Regions from separate parts of the Homo sapiens genome. Here region 1 is linked to region 2. The links come from fine-mapping of genetic effects on gene expression. A gene starts in region 2. The other region holds a variant in brackets. All regions are shown on one strand. Distances are from middle to middle.

Region 1 (8,312 bases), 28 kb after region 2:
CCCCAACCGGCCCAGCGCCCCCACCAGCCCAGGGCTCTGCCCGCCCAACATCCCCCACCAGCCCGGCACCCCCGCCAGCTGGGTGTCCTCTCCAGCCTGGCGCCCCCACCAGCCCGGCGCCCCCTCCAGCCCAGTGCCTCCCCAAGCCCGGTGCCTCCCACCAGCGTGACAAGCCATGGGTCCCCCACTTCAAGGCCCACATTTTTTTATTAGCTGAGGTCGTGGTAGCTGTTGTACCACCTCACTAAGCGCGTCTTTTTCTGTAGTTTTGATGCTGACGTCTTGCCCATTCCTGTGCCCCGACCACCCAGCTGCGTGGAGCAGCCCCCACTCTCTGTGGATAAAAGAACTTTCTTCCTACAAGACGGTCATTCCTGCGTCTGTGTGTTACCCTCCCTGATTACAACAAATCCTAGGCTCATTTTAAAAAGATACAGGCCCCACATTTAGGAGGCTGCAGCCCAAACCTCTGCAGCCAGCATCCTATGTCTTCGCTGCAGTTTATGGCAAGACCCTGGAGACCTGGTGAGAGCACAGCCCTGGTGTCCTCCTCCGTGGCCCCCCTCATCCCCCTCTGTCAGGTGTGTAGCCCCCACTCCAAGCGTGATCTTCAGCCCCCGGCCCTGTCCCTCAGCAGCACAGGTGATAAGCCCCTCCGTCCGGAAGCACTGTCTTTACTTGGCCACCAAGACCCCCAACTTGACCGCACCCCCACTTGCCAGCCATCCCCTCTGCCCTGCCTGTGCTTCCTACCACTGTGCAGGCCCAGGCTCAGGCCTCAGACCCAGGCCCCTCACCAGCCCCAGGCCCCTCACCAGCCCCGGGCCCCTCACCAGCCCCGGGCCCACCGCACCCTGGGGCCCTGCCCTGCCCTGCCCTGCCTCCCACCCCGGCTGAGCCCACCCACACCCTGCATTCTCACATTCCATTCTCCAGCCCCAAATTCCAGGTTCACGCAGCCAACTGCCCACCTGACACCCACTAAGATGCCAAGATTGTGAGCAGGTCAGAGCCGGGCTACCAAGCAGCAGTGCCCACCCCAGCCTGCCCAGTTCTCAAACCACCATGGGCCCAGCCACCACAGCTCCCTACATCACACCCGCAACCAAGACAGCGGCCAATCCTGTGCCCCAGTGGGCCAGAACCCACCTAGTCCAGCTGTCCTCCAAACCCACCTCCTCTGAGCCACAGAACCTCCCCACCAGCGGATGGGGGCAGAAGCCTGGGCCCTGCCTACTCTCAGCTTGTGCCCCCCTTGGGGCTGAGCCCCGGCGGGCACCCATGTCCTCCAGCTGTGAGCACTTTCCTCTATGGTGTTTGCTCTTCCCTCTGGGACATGGCCATGGGGCCCCTCAGAATGGCACATATTGGGCACCACGTGACTTCAGGTAGAATGACTGAGGGACCAGCCCAGCACAGCCAGGCAGGGCAGCGAGAGGCCGGGCAGGACACCCTCCGACCACTCTGAGGACAGGGATGGCTGCAGAGCCAATGCAGGCTCACACGCAGGGACAGACAGCTGGAGGCTGAGCCCAGGCGCAGGACTTCAGAGCCACCAGCCACAACCACACCCAAGGCCATGGGGTAGACAAGGGCAGTGTGGACTGAGCGGTCAGGGTCCCCATGAGATAAACAGGAACCACTCAGAAACACTTCTCTCCTGCCAGGAGCGGTGGCCTACGCCTGTAATCCCGGCACTTTGGGAGGTAGAGGCAGGCAGATCACTTGAGCCCAGGAGTTTGGGACCAGCCTGGGCGGCATGGTGAAACCCTGCGTCTACTAAAAATGAAAATACAAAAATTAGCTGGGCATGGTGGCACGCGCCTGTAGTCTCAGCCACTCAGGAGGCTGAGATGGGAGGATTAGTTGATCCCGGAAGATCGAGGCTGCAGTCCCAGCCACTCAGGAGGCTGAGGTGGGAGGATGACTTGATCCCGGAAGATCAAGGCTGCAGTCCCAGCCACTCAGGAGGCTGAGGTGGGAGGATGACTTGATCCTGGAAGATGGAGGCTGCAGTGAGCTGACTGTGCCACTGAGTGACAGAGCAACATCTTGTCTCAAAAAAAAAAAAAAAAAAAAGAGAAACCCTCCTGTCCAACCAAGGCGGGACTTCAGAGGCCGTAGGACACATTCCCTGGGCTCCAGGGGGAGGTGCGACCACCACAGGCCCCAGAGGTTGTGATCCTGACCTGGCCGGAGTCCCAACCAGCCTCATCCCTCAAGGCAGGGTCAGCCAGGACCAGGTGAAGGAGCCCTGAAGTAGTGCAGAAAGGGAAGCAGAGGCCAGGAAGGCTGAGCCAGCCGGAACAGAATAGGCAAGCGTATGAGACACTGCACTTCCATCTCATTAATCGTTTTTTCTTTTTCATATAGGGTCTCACTCTGTTGCCCAGGCTGGAGTGCAGTAACAAGATCATAGCTCACTTGGCCTCATAGCCTTGGTCTCCAGGCTCAAGCGATCCTCCTGTCTCGGCCTCCCTTCTATGTAGCTGGGACTACAGGCACATGCCACTACACCCAGCTGCTTTTTTTATTTTTTGTAGTGGTGGGGCCTCCCTATGTTGCCCAGGCTGGTCTTGATCTCCCAGGCTCATGCAATCCTCCCATCCAGGCCTCCCAAAGCGCTGGGATTACAGGCATGAGCCACTGCATCCAGCTGCACCACCTCTTAATAAACATTAGTTTTGGCCGGGCACAGTGGTTCATGCCTGTAATCCCAGCACTTTGGGAGGCCGAGGCGGGTGGATCACCTGAGGTCAGGAGTTCAAGACCAGCCTGACCAATACGATGAAACCCCATCTCTACTAAAAATACAAAAATTGGCCGGGCATGGTGGCGCACTGCTGTAATCCCAGCTACTCAGAAGGCTGAGGCAGGAGAATCGCTTGAACCCGGGAGGCGGAGGTTGCAGTGAGCCGAAACTGCGCCACTGTACTCCAGCCTGGGTGACAAGAGCAAGACTCTGTCTTAAAAAAAAAAAAATTTCTAGTTTTGTTGAAGTTTATTGCACCTTCCAGTAAGCGCACTTGGTCTCACGCGCCAGGTGACCTCTGCTGTTTCCTGTGAGGCCATCTTCGCCTCTGTCTTCCTGGGAAGCAAACTGCACTGTCCTTACACAGATGCTGGCTCGTCCAGGGTGCAGGGCCCTACTGCCCCAGCCAGGCCGACACCGTGGGCCTCCAGGCTGTTCCGTGGGTCTGGGGCAGGTCGCAAGACAGAAGGGAAAAGCTGCAGCTGGCCTTAAGACAGGAAGTCTATGGGGACAGAGGGGATGGGGGTCTTGAGGATGACTCGGGCTCCTGAAGGCAGGGGAGGGAGGCAGGAGAGTGTCAGAGAGGCAGTGTTGTGAGGACCTCCATGCCTGCTCTGAGCTGGGGGCCACACAGCCCTGCCTGCCCATCCAGCTTTAACCCTGTGGACTGGCAACCCCCGACCCACAGAACAAGAGGGCGTGACTTCAGGCGACTCGAGCCACTGCATGTGTGATAACAACTAGAGCTGAAGGCCAGGGTCCCATCCCTGCTCCATCATGACGGGCAGCACTAGGGCACCCTGCCGGCTTCCCTCCCGCAGGCCCTGGCCTCTCAGGCCCTCTCCACCGCCAGCATCATGGGGGCACACGCGCACCCAGGACTTGGACTGCCCTGAATTCACGCATCACATCGAGAGGTGACAACTCCATGACAATAAGCCTGCTTTTGTGCTCGTAAAAATCAAGTCCCCCAGGCCCGTGAGAGTCCTGGTTCTGTGGCAGTTTATAAAAAGCAGGGCTTCAAGTGGACTTGCTCCCAGCCCAAGAAGAGCCCTGTCCGGCAGTCGAGGGTTGCTGAGAGCACGGGGGACTTTCAGAGGCTGCAGGTGGAGGAGGGTTGAGGTCTGAGGGCCTGGAACAGAGCTGGAACCAGCAGGTGGAGGTGGCAGGAGCCCTTAGGAGGAGCTGGCGGAGGGGCCGGAGGGTGGCGCAGGCCAGGGAGCATTTGCACAAATCCTGGTGGCCCACAGGAGGCCCAGCTGCATGAGAGGGTCAGAGAGGTGCTCCTGAAAGGGAGGCCTTGCTGGCCACGGCCAGGTCTTGCCGGTGCTCCTGGGTCCCATGCACCGGAATGGGAAGGCAGGCGGTCTAGGCGTGTCCACCCCTGGGACCAAGGAGGCCCAGACAGGCTGAGACTGGAGCTGGAGCCCCAGGTGTGTGCTGTCACTCAGGCACATGCCCCAGTGAGAGCATGTTCTGGCAGGGGGAATGGACGTGGCCTCGGGGCAGGGCCGGCAGGAGCCTGGAGGTGGCCCCACAAGCCCCATCGTCTGCCCACCTCAGGTCAGAGTCCGACAGCCCCAGAAGAGAGGGGAGCCCGGCAAGGCAGGCAGGGCTGGAGGCCTCAGGGCCACCTGTGTCTGCTGGTGGGGGGCGGGGGGGGTGCCATGAGGCCGACCCTCCTTCCGCCAGGCTGAGGCACGTCCCCCGGACACAGATGGCTCTTTGTCAGGGATGAGCTGAGCTTGCTGAGCAGCCTCTGGAACAAAGCCCCTCTGTCCATGCTGTGCCTCCCCACCCGGAGCACCACCTCCCGGGAAGGAGCAGAGCCCCGGGCTCCCATCCGGCGCACCCACCAGGCACAGCC[T/A]TGGCCGGAGGTGGGGGCAGCTGTGCTCACAGCCCAGGGCCAGGCCCACAGCGGGAGCCCAAATGAAGGGGGGCGGGGCCGAGATAATCCCGCTCCAGGGAGGCCTGTGCCACCTCCCCGTGGTCCTGCCACTCACCAGTGCTGGGGTATGCATGTCCTCCAGCACCTGGCCAGCCCTACACTGGCCACCACTGCCCAGGGGCTCCTCCACGCTCCCACCCCCAAACAGGGAAACCCGACAGGGTGGCAGGGGGAGGGCCAGCGGCAGGAAAGCTGCTACAATTTATTTCCGAGTCCCCTCCAGACCACCAGGCTGAGCCTGTCACGACCTCCTCAAGGGACCAGCCATTCCTGTCCCCAGTGCTGCTAGCCACAGGCCTGGGATCCGGCCAGAGTCAGCCCAGCCCCACCCCTGGAGCGAGCATGTGACGTGGGCTCTGCATCTGCATCGTCCCTGCGGCCACCTGGCCTTGGAATCTGCTCCTCCAAGACCCAGCCAGGCTGGGCCAGGGCAGGCTTCCCACACGAGGGCCCGTCGACAGGCCCTCAGCGTCCAGGTGGCGGGATCCAGATGAGACCAGGGCGGGCTCCCACCAGCCTGGCCAGTTCCTGCCGACACTGTCCCTGTAGTCGACGTAGCACCGCCTCCAGGCAGGCCTCCTGGCTCCTCAGCGTCCTGATCACCACAGCTGCCCGCAGGTCCCGGTCCCCTGCTGCCCCATCCTCTCGTCTCACCAGCCGGTGTGGCCCATGGGGCTGGGCCGGGCCACCGTCTCGCTCCCAGCACTGCTGTAGAGCTCCCAGCTCCTTTTCCACAGCCTCCCGAGAGGCCCGCCGCGCGGCACTCCACTCTGGCCCCCGTCCACAGCCTCCAGCCTGCGTGGGACACAATGGCAATGGCTCTGTCCCCCCAGGACACTGGCCTCAGGCTCCCTGAGCATTCCCTGAGCCCAGACTCAGGTGCAGGCGCTGCAGGCATGCGGGAAACGCCCATGCTCTTCAGAGAGGCTTACTGAAAATTTTAAGGGGAAAATCATGCCTGCAATTTAAGTTAAAACTCTTCAGAAAAAGAAAATAGATGGAGCCAACACAGCCCCGTGTTCACAGCCATGAACCTGCGCAGGTTAAGCGGGCAGCTCTGAGTCTAGGGTGGAGGCCCAGGTGGCCACCAGGAGGTTAGACGGGTCCCAGGCAGGTGTGGAGGAGTGACTACTACCGTGTGATGCATGTGTGGCGGACGCATGGGAGCAGCAGGGCCCACACAGCACGGGCTTCCCTCCCTCATGCAAAGAATCAGACAACAGACCTCCCGCAGGAGGGGCGGGGGCTGTCTCGCAGCAGCTGCGGCTCCTCACCAGGTGCCCTCCCGCTCCCTCAGGGTACGTGCCTCTAAGTGTGTCCCCTGCCATGCTTGACAAATGCAACTGTAGGATTCAGCAAGTCCAAAGTGCCCTCAGGTCAGCCATCCCCCGAAGGTGGGGCTGGGCTGGTGCCCAGAGCGAGGCTGGCACTCACCTTGGCCTCCCAGGCCGCCCGCCTGCGCTCCGCAGCCTCCCGCAGCTCCTCCTCCAGTGCCTGCAGCTCCCGCACTACCAGGTCCAACTCGCCACCCCCGCGCTCGGGGACCCAGGGCAGGAAGGTGGGCTGTGAGGCTGCAGCAGGCACCTCCGGGGCACAGGTGCCCAGGACCGTGTCCTACAGAGACCCAAGTGAGACAGCGTGCACCAAGCCAAGGGGACAGAGGGACAGAGGGCAAAGAGGGCAGTGGTAGTCCCCCAGGTCCCACAGCGGGCTGGATGCCACCATCTCAGCAACTGTGACGTCCAGGGAGGCACAAAGGCCACACTCTAGAAGGCCATGGAGCTGAGGGCGGGGGCAGCAGTGAGCCTCCCCAGAAGGCGAGTGGAAGTCCTAGAAAGAGCCTACACTAGGTCTGTGGCCTCCCTAAAAGCCCCTCTTCCTGTCTGGAAAACAGGAAGATCCCGAATGCCCCACCTGGGGGCTGCTGTGGGAAGGGATGCCGGGAGAGGGATGCGCGGGCTTCCTCACCATCCACCGCCAGAAGACCAGCTCAGAGCGCCGCCACGCCAGGACAGCCTCCAGGCGCTGGTTCTCACGCTCCAGAGTCCGCAGCAGCTGGAAGGCAAACGGCAGCTGGCCTAGAACCTCACACGGGACCCCATGGACAGACAGTCGGATGGACAGCTGGACCCAGCGCCGACACCCGGCCCAACGCCTAGCTCACGCCCCGCCCCTGCAGCCCTCCCCTGCCTGCGCCCAGGTTCTCTGGCCAGAGCGATGAGCAGGGCACCCTGGTGTGGTGCGGACGCCACAGCCCACCTGTCCTTTCTGCAGTGCAGGGCAGCCCCCAACCAGTGCACGGCCAGGCCCTGCCTGCCAGGCAAGAGCTGCCCCCCGGCTCTGAGGACATCCGCTGTCCCCCACACCAGCCCCACTGCCAGTCCAACAAGGTCAGGGACAGGTCCAGGTGCCTCTCAAGCCTAGACCTCTGCCCCACAGCCCTCACTGAATGCGGGCTGTATCCGGGGACTGCAGGCGGACGGGGAGGCCCCAAACGAAGGAGCAAGCCAGGCTCTGGGGGAGGGAAAACCCATCCCCTGTAACTTCAGGGACCCCCTAAGGCAGTGAGGAGTCTGCCTAGTGACCCAGGTGGCAGAGAAGGCAGAGCTGAGCCACACTTGACATTCCCAAGTGAAGGGTCAGGCAGGGCCAGGAGACCCCGCCCTGCCTGCCCCATGGCCCTGCACAAAGGTACCTGCCCACAGTGCCCACAGACAGGCGGCTGGAGAATGGCCAGGACACAGCAGCTGCTCTGCCCACACACGGAAGGCCTCCCAGGTTCGCTCATGGGCTATCTGTACCAGTGACCCTGGGCCCGGGGCAAGGGGACCCCTGCTGGGGACAGGCCCTCTACACCTGAATCCTGCCCCACTCTACCCCTGCTTCCCCCGGGAACCCAGAGTGTGGAGCAGGCTGCAGGGGCCTGGGGCTCCAGCAGTGGGCTGGGGGGCAGATAGGAATGGCCTTGAACACCAGGTCCAACCCAGCCCCTCTGGGGCGGAGCAGAGCAGAGGCAGGCAGGCCTGCGGTCAGAGAATATGAGGACAGGGAGGTCTGTGGGCGGTGTGGGAGCTGGAGCAGGCTGGTGCCGGGGCTGCAGCCCACCTGCCCACCCCAGCACGCCACAAGAAGAGCAAAGGCCTCCACCATGGGTACGGCCGCTTCAACACACCTGACAGAAGGCAATCACCACAGTTCCCAAGAAGGTAAGGGCCAGGGGTGGGAGCAGGCAGGAGAGGAGGAGCAAACACACCCCCTCGCCACCCCCTCCCACCCACCCCCAAGTCCTGCGGTCTCCACTTCCCTGCCAGCCTCCCCGACTTACCGCCCTAAAAGGGGAGAGCAGGCTGCAGGCTGAGGCCCCACCAGGATCCAAGGGTGCTGCCCAGTCACCCGGCAGCAGACCTGGCTGCTCACATACCAGCCACAGATCATTCCAGAAGGTTCTGGGACCCATCCCAGGAGTGCAGAAGGAGTGCAGGCACTTTGGGTAGGCCAGGTCCAGGTTTTGGGCAGCTCCCGCTCCAGAAACCTTGGAAGGAAGCCAGCCATGGCCCCAGTCCACCTGGCCAGTGCCGCACACAGCTTCGGGGAGAGGGCGGGGCCTCACTT
Region 2 (8,312 bases):
GAATGAAGCTCGCCCCTCACCCACTACCCCCCACTCCAGACCACTCCCTCCCAAGAAGGCCCAGGTCCTCCCACTGGCCCACGCAACTCCCACAGCCCCTCTTCTCTCTCCATGCCAGGCCTGGGGCCTTTCCACGGCTGCTCATCACCGCCCCTCCCCGGCCCCCCAGCCCCCTTGATCCTGCAGACCTTCCACTTCCCAACACGATCATTAGTGGCCTGGGCACAGCCCAGAGCAGGGCGCCTCTGACCTCCTACCCAGGCCAGCGCCCCGTGCCCACCCACGGCGCTCGGCGCTTGGAGGGGCTGCTGGGGATATGATCGGAGGCCGGGGCCAAGGCACGGTTTTAGAGGTGGGCAGAGCGCCGGCCACGTCTGACCTGGACAGCGAGGTAGTCCCCCTGCCCGGGACCCTGAGGACAGTGGTCCCGAGGCCAGCTGCCTGGAAGGCAGGCGACTTTCAAAGGCCAGACCCCAGGTGGCCTGGAGCTGGGGTATGAGGACTGTGTGGGGTCGGGGTGCGGCTGGGGCTGCCACCAGCCACGCCCTTAACTGCTGCAGTTGTTGGGAAATGCACTTGGGGAGGACCCCACTTGAGCAGCCAGCTCCACTCCCCTCGATGGTTTTAGCCCTGGCTGGCTAAACCTTGCCACCTTTGGGCCGTGGAAATGCGGGAAGCGAAGGCCCAGGCAGTGAACTGTGCCACATGAGATGTGTGTGACCATCACCCGCTCATGGAGCGGGCATCCTCAAACAATTCTTTTAGCAGCCTCATAAAGGGCCCCTCCCCAGATGCTACGGACCTTCCCAGGCCAGGTGGATACCCAGGGCCACATCACAGGTACAGGGTCCCAGGTGGAAGGCAGGTGAGAGACCCCTTGCAGATGGGCTTCAGGGCGGGTGCTGCCTGTGCCAGGGGCTGCCAGCTCCCGTGCTGGGGCAAGGCCAGGATGGTAAGGTGGGGCCAGGCTCCGTGCTGCTCCTGGGGCTGCGACCTGGGGCTGCCACATCAACTTGGGAACACCCTGATTCCATCTGGCTGTGGCTGTCCTGGGCTGGAGGAGCCCACAGGGAAGGTAGGTTCCACGGTGGGGGAGAAGGAAACCAGGGATGTGGGAGACACTGTCATGCCTGAGGTTGAGGGGAGCAGGGGCCAGGACACCTACGGTGCTGGGGGAAGATGGGGGTCAAGGTATCCCAGGAAGATAATTGGGAACACCGAAGCTGGAGTGGAGGAGCTGTCCCTGGGACAGAGCGGCAGTGGCCCCCAGGAGCTCCTGAGAGCCCCGGAGGAAGTGGAGCGGCCCAGCCTCACCAGCATCCGGCACTTGGACGCCACCATCTCCCCCGCCCTCCACACACCCCTCCTGGCTCCCCGCCTCCCAGCCTGGCTGGTAAACACAGGGACACAGGAACAGGCAAAGCAGTGCGGCCTTGGATACAAAACTGTAAACACGAGTCTTTAAAATGACAGAGGCCTCCTTGGCCCCAAATCTGAGCCAGAGGCCCCCACCGAAGGAGCAGATCTCCGCCCACACTGCCCTCCCTTCCAACCCGGGCGGCCCAGCAGGCAGGGGCCGGATCACCTCTGCTCTGCTCCGGCCCAGGCCTCCCAAACAGACCCACGCGCTGGGGCGGGCTGGTGGAGCGGGGGCTGAGGATCCGCGGTCCGAGAGATTCCTGAGATGAAGAAGCGGCCGCGGGACCCCAGGCACGGGCACTCGAGGCACCTGTCCCTAGGGGAGCCCGCCCCCACCCCATCCCATGCAAACCGCGCGCCCCAAGCCAACCCGGTGTCTCTGCGCCCCAGGGGCGTGTCGGGGGCCGCGCGGGCCCTGTCACGTGTCCAGGGGGTCACGCGTGGGCGAGGACATGTGGGGGCGCCCAGGCGGGCCGTGCAGCGGCGGCGGCGGCGGCGGCACCGAGTTGCGCTGCGGGGGTGGCGGCTGCAGCTCCAGTGATAGCGCAGGCGGCGGGAAGTCGCGCACCTGGCGGCGGTACTCCAGGAAGGTGCAGGCCTTGGTGGCGAGCGCCACCACGTTTTTGCCGACGAAGATGGCCGAGACACGGCTGTCCCGGAACAGCGCCATGTTGGCGGCGCGCGCCAGCACGGCCACCACATTGACGGTGGCGAGGCTGAGCACCGGGTACAGCATCATCTTCTGCGGCGCTATGTGCTCGCCCTGCATGCTGACCTCGCTGAGCGCCACGCACGGCAGCACCAGCAGCAGCATGTAGCAGTAGAAGAAGGTGAGGCCCTCGGCCCACAGCGGCAGCCCGGAGCGCGGCGGCTCCCACAGGCTGGCCTGCATGTCCAGCAGGTCCAGCAGGTCCAGCGCCACCCAAAACAGGCGGCCGCGCAGGTCCTCGCGCTTGCGGAAGGTGCGCACGTACTCCATGCGGTCCAGCGCCACGAGCAGCAGGAACAGGCCGGGCACACACACAGACAGCAGCAGCGTCAGCGCCTTGCGCGCCACGGGGTCCGCCGCGCCGCGCCGCGCCGCCTTGTAGTTCTGGAAGATGAAGTAGAGCTTGATCTCCAGCACGAAGATGTAAAGGAACCACAGGATCATGGCGTAGCCGCGCTTGGCCGTGCGCACCTCGGCGCCCACCCACACGGCCACGTAGCGCAGCACCAGCAGGAAGCACACGTCGCCCACCAGCACGATGATGCACACGCCGATCTTGCGCGGGCCCTGGTTCTGCTCCACCAGGTACGCGTCCATGACGGCCATGCTGCCCATGATCACCAGCGTGGTCAGGCACACGTGGCGCCGGTCCGGGGGCGGCAGCACCATGGTCGGCCGCCGGGCCCCGGCCTGGGCGCGCGCGGCCCCCACGCCTGGCGGGACGAGGCCCTGCGGCGCTCAGCCAGCGGGCATGGCGCGACACGGCCCGGCGAGCTCGAAACCTGGGGAGACCGGAGGAGACAAGATCAGGGTGCGGGCTGGAGCGGCCTCCCCCAACACCCCCCGCCCCCCGCACCCCGCGTGCTTCCCACCAGGCGCGGTCTCCGCGCCGGGGCCCCGAGGCATCGCGCACGCCTGCGCCCATGCGCGAACCGGCGGCCGCGAACCACAGCGAGGCCTCCAGAGGGCGCTGCTGCCTCGCCAGAGCACCCGGGCCTCGTTCCCGCCGCCAGGAAGGAAACGGAACGGACGCGTTTTCTGCCCGCCGAGCTCGTTCCCGGAGCCCGGGGGGGTTTGTCACTGCTGGGCCCGCGCCGCCCTCCCTCCTGGCTCCGGCGGCCCGGACCCCACGCCCGCGCTGCTGGCCTCAGGCCGTTTCCGCGGAGTTCCGGGAATACCCTCTCCCCGCCGCCGCACTGGGCAGGGAGGCGGGCCTGCCCCTCCGCTCTTGGAGTACCCAAGGAGGCCTCGGCCCTCCCAGGCTTTCTGATCCCGGACCGAGAGCCACCCAGGTCCCGATGCATCCGTCCCACAAGCCTCTCCGAGCCTCCCCGCCCCTGCCCGGCAGCCCCCACGCCCCTCCTCCCTGCACGGGCAGGCTCGGTCTCCCCTCCTGTCCACCATCCTGGGCGCGTGGCCACTGCCTGCCCTGCTCCCCATGGCTCCGCATTGCCTTGGCGAGGTGTTGTCCCCCACCCTCTGCCCCGGCAGAGCCACCCTGCTTTGCTCCTCTGCGCCAGGGCGATGCCTGTGGCTGCCCTCGAATCTCGGGAAGCCCGTCCACCAAGGCCCGTCGGGCTTCCACAGGCCCCTGCACCTCTGTCACACACCTGGCACTGGTCCTCATGGCCGTGCTGTCGGAGTCCCCGCACCTGGGCCTGTGCACACCTGGGTGACAATGGAGGCCCGCACACCCGCACCCACCCCAAAGTCACTGACAGGCTTACTCCCAGCCAGCCCCTCACCCCCTCCACAGCCCCAGGCCTGGGGCTCCGTTTACTGCCGTGTCTAGACAAAGGCATAAAATTTAATGTCCCCGTGACAGTCGGGCGCTCGGACTGCCCTGGTGACACCGCAGGCCCCACCGATCCGGGAAAGCGTTGAACTCTGCACTCCCACCCCTGCCCCCACCCAGCACCCGCCGCCCAGGATCCCCACAGCCACACACAGGACACCCCCACCCCTCGGAGCTCTGACAGGTCGCGAGGAGGGTGCCTTGAGGGTCCTCAGCCCATGCCCCTGCCTCCAAGCCTCCCCGCGCTCTGGGTCCCACCGGGACACTCACCCGGTTTTCACGTCCACTGGATCTACACGTCTGACCCAGGAAGCCCTCTCTGGGCCCATTCCAGGCCCACCTGGGCCTCCCCTAGCTGCAGCCGCAGCCTGAGAATTTCCTCCCTCTCCGCGCGTGGCGGGGCCAAATAAATAGCGGGGGAGCCACGGCGCCGCTCACCCTTTCCGGCCGTGCCTCCAGCCCCTCCGCCCCACTACGCTGTCGCTCGATCCTCAGTCACTTGGCAGATGCGGGCCGAGGGGCTCTGCGCTGGCGAAGGGACGGACTCCAGCCCCTAGCGGAGCCCCTACCCCGGCAAGCCAGAGCCCGGCCCGGCCACCTCTCCGTAGGGACCTGGCCCCAGGCCCACCTGTCCTGGGTCTCCTGGGCCCCGGCCGAGGCCCCTCCTCCCCCCACGCCCCGCGGCTCAGACCTGGCACAGACTCTGGGGCCTCCAGGCCCTTCACTGCCCGGGCCCCGCAAGGACCCTCGCCCCATAACCACCCCTCGGAGCCCCCGGGAGGAGGGGCGGGAGGGGGCTGCTGTGCTCCCGCCGCGGGCCGGTGCAGAGCTTGGGCCGCTCCCAGCAGGCTGCGTCTCTGCTTGTCCCCCCGAGGCTTCCCCACGCAGGGCCGGGTCCCCGTCACCCCGCCGGCCCCAGGCCTCACCCCTGCCGCATCGGCCCCCGCCCCACCCCACAGTCCCCACGGCCCAGAGGTGCAGGGTCGCCCAGGCCCGCCGCCCCCTCCGCGGACGCAGCCGCGCACCCAGCCAGTCCCGCCCGCGCCCGCGCCTACCCCGCCGCCCGCAGATGCTGCGCCGCTCCCGGGCCCGCCCGCCCAGCCTCTGCCGCCACTGCCGGGGCCGCGCCGGCTCCTCCCGCCGCGCCCCTCCCCCGCCCGCGCGGCACCGCCCCCGACCCAGAGGCCCCGCCCCGCGCCCCTCGGCCCGCGAGCCCCGCCGGACCTGGGGACCTGGGAGCGCGGGGGTGCCGGTGCCCCGCCCCCTCCGCAGCGCCGGTTGCCACGGCGACAGCACCGCGCGGCGGCGCGCAGGACTGGTGGCTCTGGGGAGCGGGGCGCCCTCGCGCACCCCCAGGCGCGGAGTCCCGTCTCCACCCTCCTCACCCACCGCCCAGAATCCCAGGGTCCCGCCCAGTGCCCCCCGCGCCCTGAAACTCCGCTGCCGCCCCCTAGAGCGACCCCACTCAGCCGGACAGGCGCCCACCGGCCCAGGAGCTGACAGGGATGTAGGCGCGGGGCTGGCCTGGCCGCCGGGGCCCTCCGCGCCACCCTCTGTCCTCTTTGGGGAGAAACCCAGCCTTCCCAGGTTTCTTCTCAGGGCAGAGGAAAGGAATGATGAGCGGCCCCCACCTTCTTCTCCAGCCCGTCCAGGAGGCAAGCTAGGGTTTGGGGACTTGGGCTTCATTTTGTCACTGAGGTGGCACTAAGCCCCTCCCCCCACATCCTGTCCATCCCGTGTGAGCCAGAGAAGAACCCGAGGGCACCTTCTGCCTGCCTGCCCTCCTTCCCAGAACTGCTGTGACTTCCCTCTGACATAGGAGGAGACTGAGGGTCAGAGAGGTAAAGGGACACCAGATTTGGTGGAAAGACCAGAATTTGAGGCACCACCCAACTGGTAGTGAACTTCCAGATTCTCTTCCCGTATCCCCGGGCCTGGACTCAACACGGCCTGAAAGCCAGAAGAGGACAGAGAGCTCCAGAAGTTCTCTAGTCCTGGCACAAGGGGAGGAAAGAAAAAGGTCGCCTAATGCTCCCAGGGTGCAGGAGAATGCCCGGGGGGATGTTAGGGTTTGGGAGGATGGGGTTTTTTGGTAGTGGTTGTTTTTTTACTCTTCTCCATTCTCTGATGCCCCAGCCCCTAGGTATCCCACCAAAGCCATGACCAAGGCATAGGGTTTACAAGCACCTAAAACGCTGAGGCAGAAGAGCCTTCCTTTCCAGCCCCAGGAGATGTGGTCCCCTGTCGCTGGAGAGATGGTGGGCAGGGAGAAGCAGTAGAAAGCAATCCATGGGCTGGGCGTGGTGGCTCACACCTGTAATTCCAGCACTTTGGGAGGCCGATGTGGGCGGATTACCTGAGGTCGGGAGTTCGAGACCAGCCTGGCCAACATGGTGAAACCCCCATCTCTACTAAAAATATAAAAATTAGCCGGGCGTGGTGGCACACACCTGTAATCCCAGCTACTCGGGAGGCTGAAGCAGGAGAATTGCTTGAGTCCGGGAGATGGAGGTTGCAGTGAGCCGAGATCTTGCCACTGCACTCCAGCCTGGGCAACAGAGTGAGACTCTGTCTCAAAAAAAAAAAAAAAAAAAAAGCAACCCCAGGAAGTTGTGCAAGCCATACATGATGTACAAGTCTAAACCCTCATTCACATCCCAAAGGCTGAGAACTGAACAAAAGGACAGCCCACTGCCCACGTCCCACACTGGCCACTGGGCAGTGCATACGAAGGACAGATCTGAGTCCCACTGCAAAGGCTTTGAAAACAAAACCGACATGGAAGGCAGGACCCACAGGAGCCTATTTGAACTTGTGGCCTGAAACCAACTAGGTTGATTGCATGATAAAACAAAATGCCAACATTCTCAATGGGATTTAAATAAGACCAGTCTCATAACATAATGTCTAAATGTGCAGGAGACAATCTAAAATTACTCTGCATGTGAAGAATCAGGAAATCCAACCTGCAAGAGAAAAGACAATCAACAGCCGCCAATGCCAACATGACACAAAAACCCTCAACTAATTATCAGCAAATAGAATCAAGCAGCATTAAAAACACACACACACAAATACCCCAACCAAATGGAGGCTATCCCAGAAAGGCAAGGCTGGTTCAACATGTGAAAATAAATCGATGTGATCCACCATATTAGTCTCAAGAAGAAAACCATGTGATCATCTCAATCAATTCAAAGAAAGTATTTGACGGAATTCAACACTCATCCCTGATAAACACTCTCAGCAAACTAGAAAGCAAAGGGAACATGCTTAATCTCATAAAAGGAATCTACAAAAAGCAACAACAAAAACAACAGGCCAGGCATGGTGGCTCACCCCTGCAATCTCAACATTTTGGGAGGCCAGGAGTTCAAGACCAGCCCGGGCAACATGGAGAGATTCCATATCTGTTATTTTTAATTAAAAAAAAAATTAGGCCAGGCACTGTGGCTCATGCCTCTAATACCAGCATTTTGGGAGGCCAAAGTGGGCGGATTGCTTGAGCTTGAGTTCAAGACCAGCCTGGGAAACATGGTGAAACCCTGTCTCTACAAAAAATACAAAACAATCTGGCCGGATGTGGTGGCTCACGCCTGTAATCCCAGCACTTTGGGAGGCCAAGGCAGGCAGATCACCTGAGCTCAGGAGTTCTATGCCAGCCTGGGCAACATGGCGAAACACCATCTCTACTTAAAACACACACACACACACACACACATTAGCAGGGTACAGTGACACACACCTGTAATCCCAGCTACTCAGGAGGCTGAGGCATGAGAATCGCTTGAACTTGGGAGGCAGAGGTTGCAGTGAACTAAGATCGCACCACTGCACTCCAGTGTGGGCAACAGAGGAAGACCCTGTCCAAAAAAGAAAAAAAAAAAAAAAAAAAACCTCTGCATCTAATGTGATACTTAATAATGAAGGACTAAATGCTGAGCCCTAAGATCAGGAACAAGGTAAAGATGTCCACTCTATTCACTCCTGTTCCACAGTGTACTGGCAGTCCTAACCCATGCAATAAAACCAGAAAAATAAAAGGCATACAGATTAGAAAGGAAGAAATAAAGATGTCCCTATCCATAAATAACATAAAAGTCTATGTCGAAAATCCCAAGAATTTTACCAACAAAAAAGTCAGAATACTAATAAGTGAGTTTTGCAAGGTTGCAGGATGAAAACACAGAACTCAGTCCTGTTTCTATATATTAGCAATGAACAATTGAAAACCAAAATTTTTAAAAGCAATGCTATTTAAAATGGTCCCCCAGTAAATTTATTCGTTTGGTATTAATCTAACAAGACTGGTACAGGATTTGTATACTGAAAACTACCAAATGCTGATAAAAGAAATCAAAGAAGGCCTAAATATGTGAGAGGCATGCT

Evidence for each region.
Region 1: its variant is fine-mapped to the expression of TMEM121 in spinal cord (GTEx, PIP 0.94).

Annotation. Positions count from the first base shown.
Region 1 is chr14:105,495,800-105,504,111 of GRCh38, reverse strand. It overlaps TEDC1 (tubulin epsilon and delta complex 1), which reads right to left. Exons shown (of 9, transcript NM_001367178.1): 6 at 8,026-8,232; 7 at 6,669-6,755; 8 at 6,135-6,314; 9 at 4,864-5,495. The coding sequence ends at 5,166. Among named protein-coding and RNA genes, the nearest start is that of TEDC1, 8.7 kb to the right of the region's middle. RefSeq lists a silencer at 5,006-5,300. The variant T/A (reference allele first, on the strand shown) is at 4,620.
Region 2 is chr14:105,523,320-105,531,631 of GRCh38, reverse strand. TMEM121 (transmembrane protein 121) reads right to left here and starts at 5,049. Exons shown (of 2, transcript NM_025268.4): 1 at 4,979-5,049; 2 at 1,434-2,910. The coding sequence starts at 2,797. The coding sequence ends at 1,838. RefSeq lists a silencer at 3,182-3,391.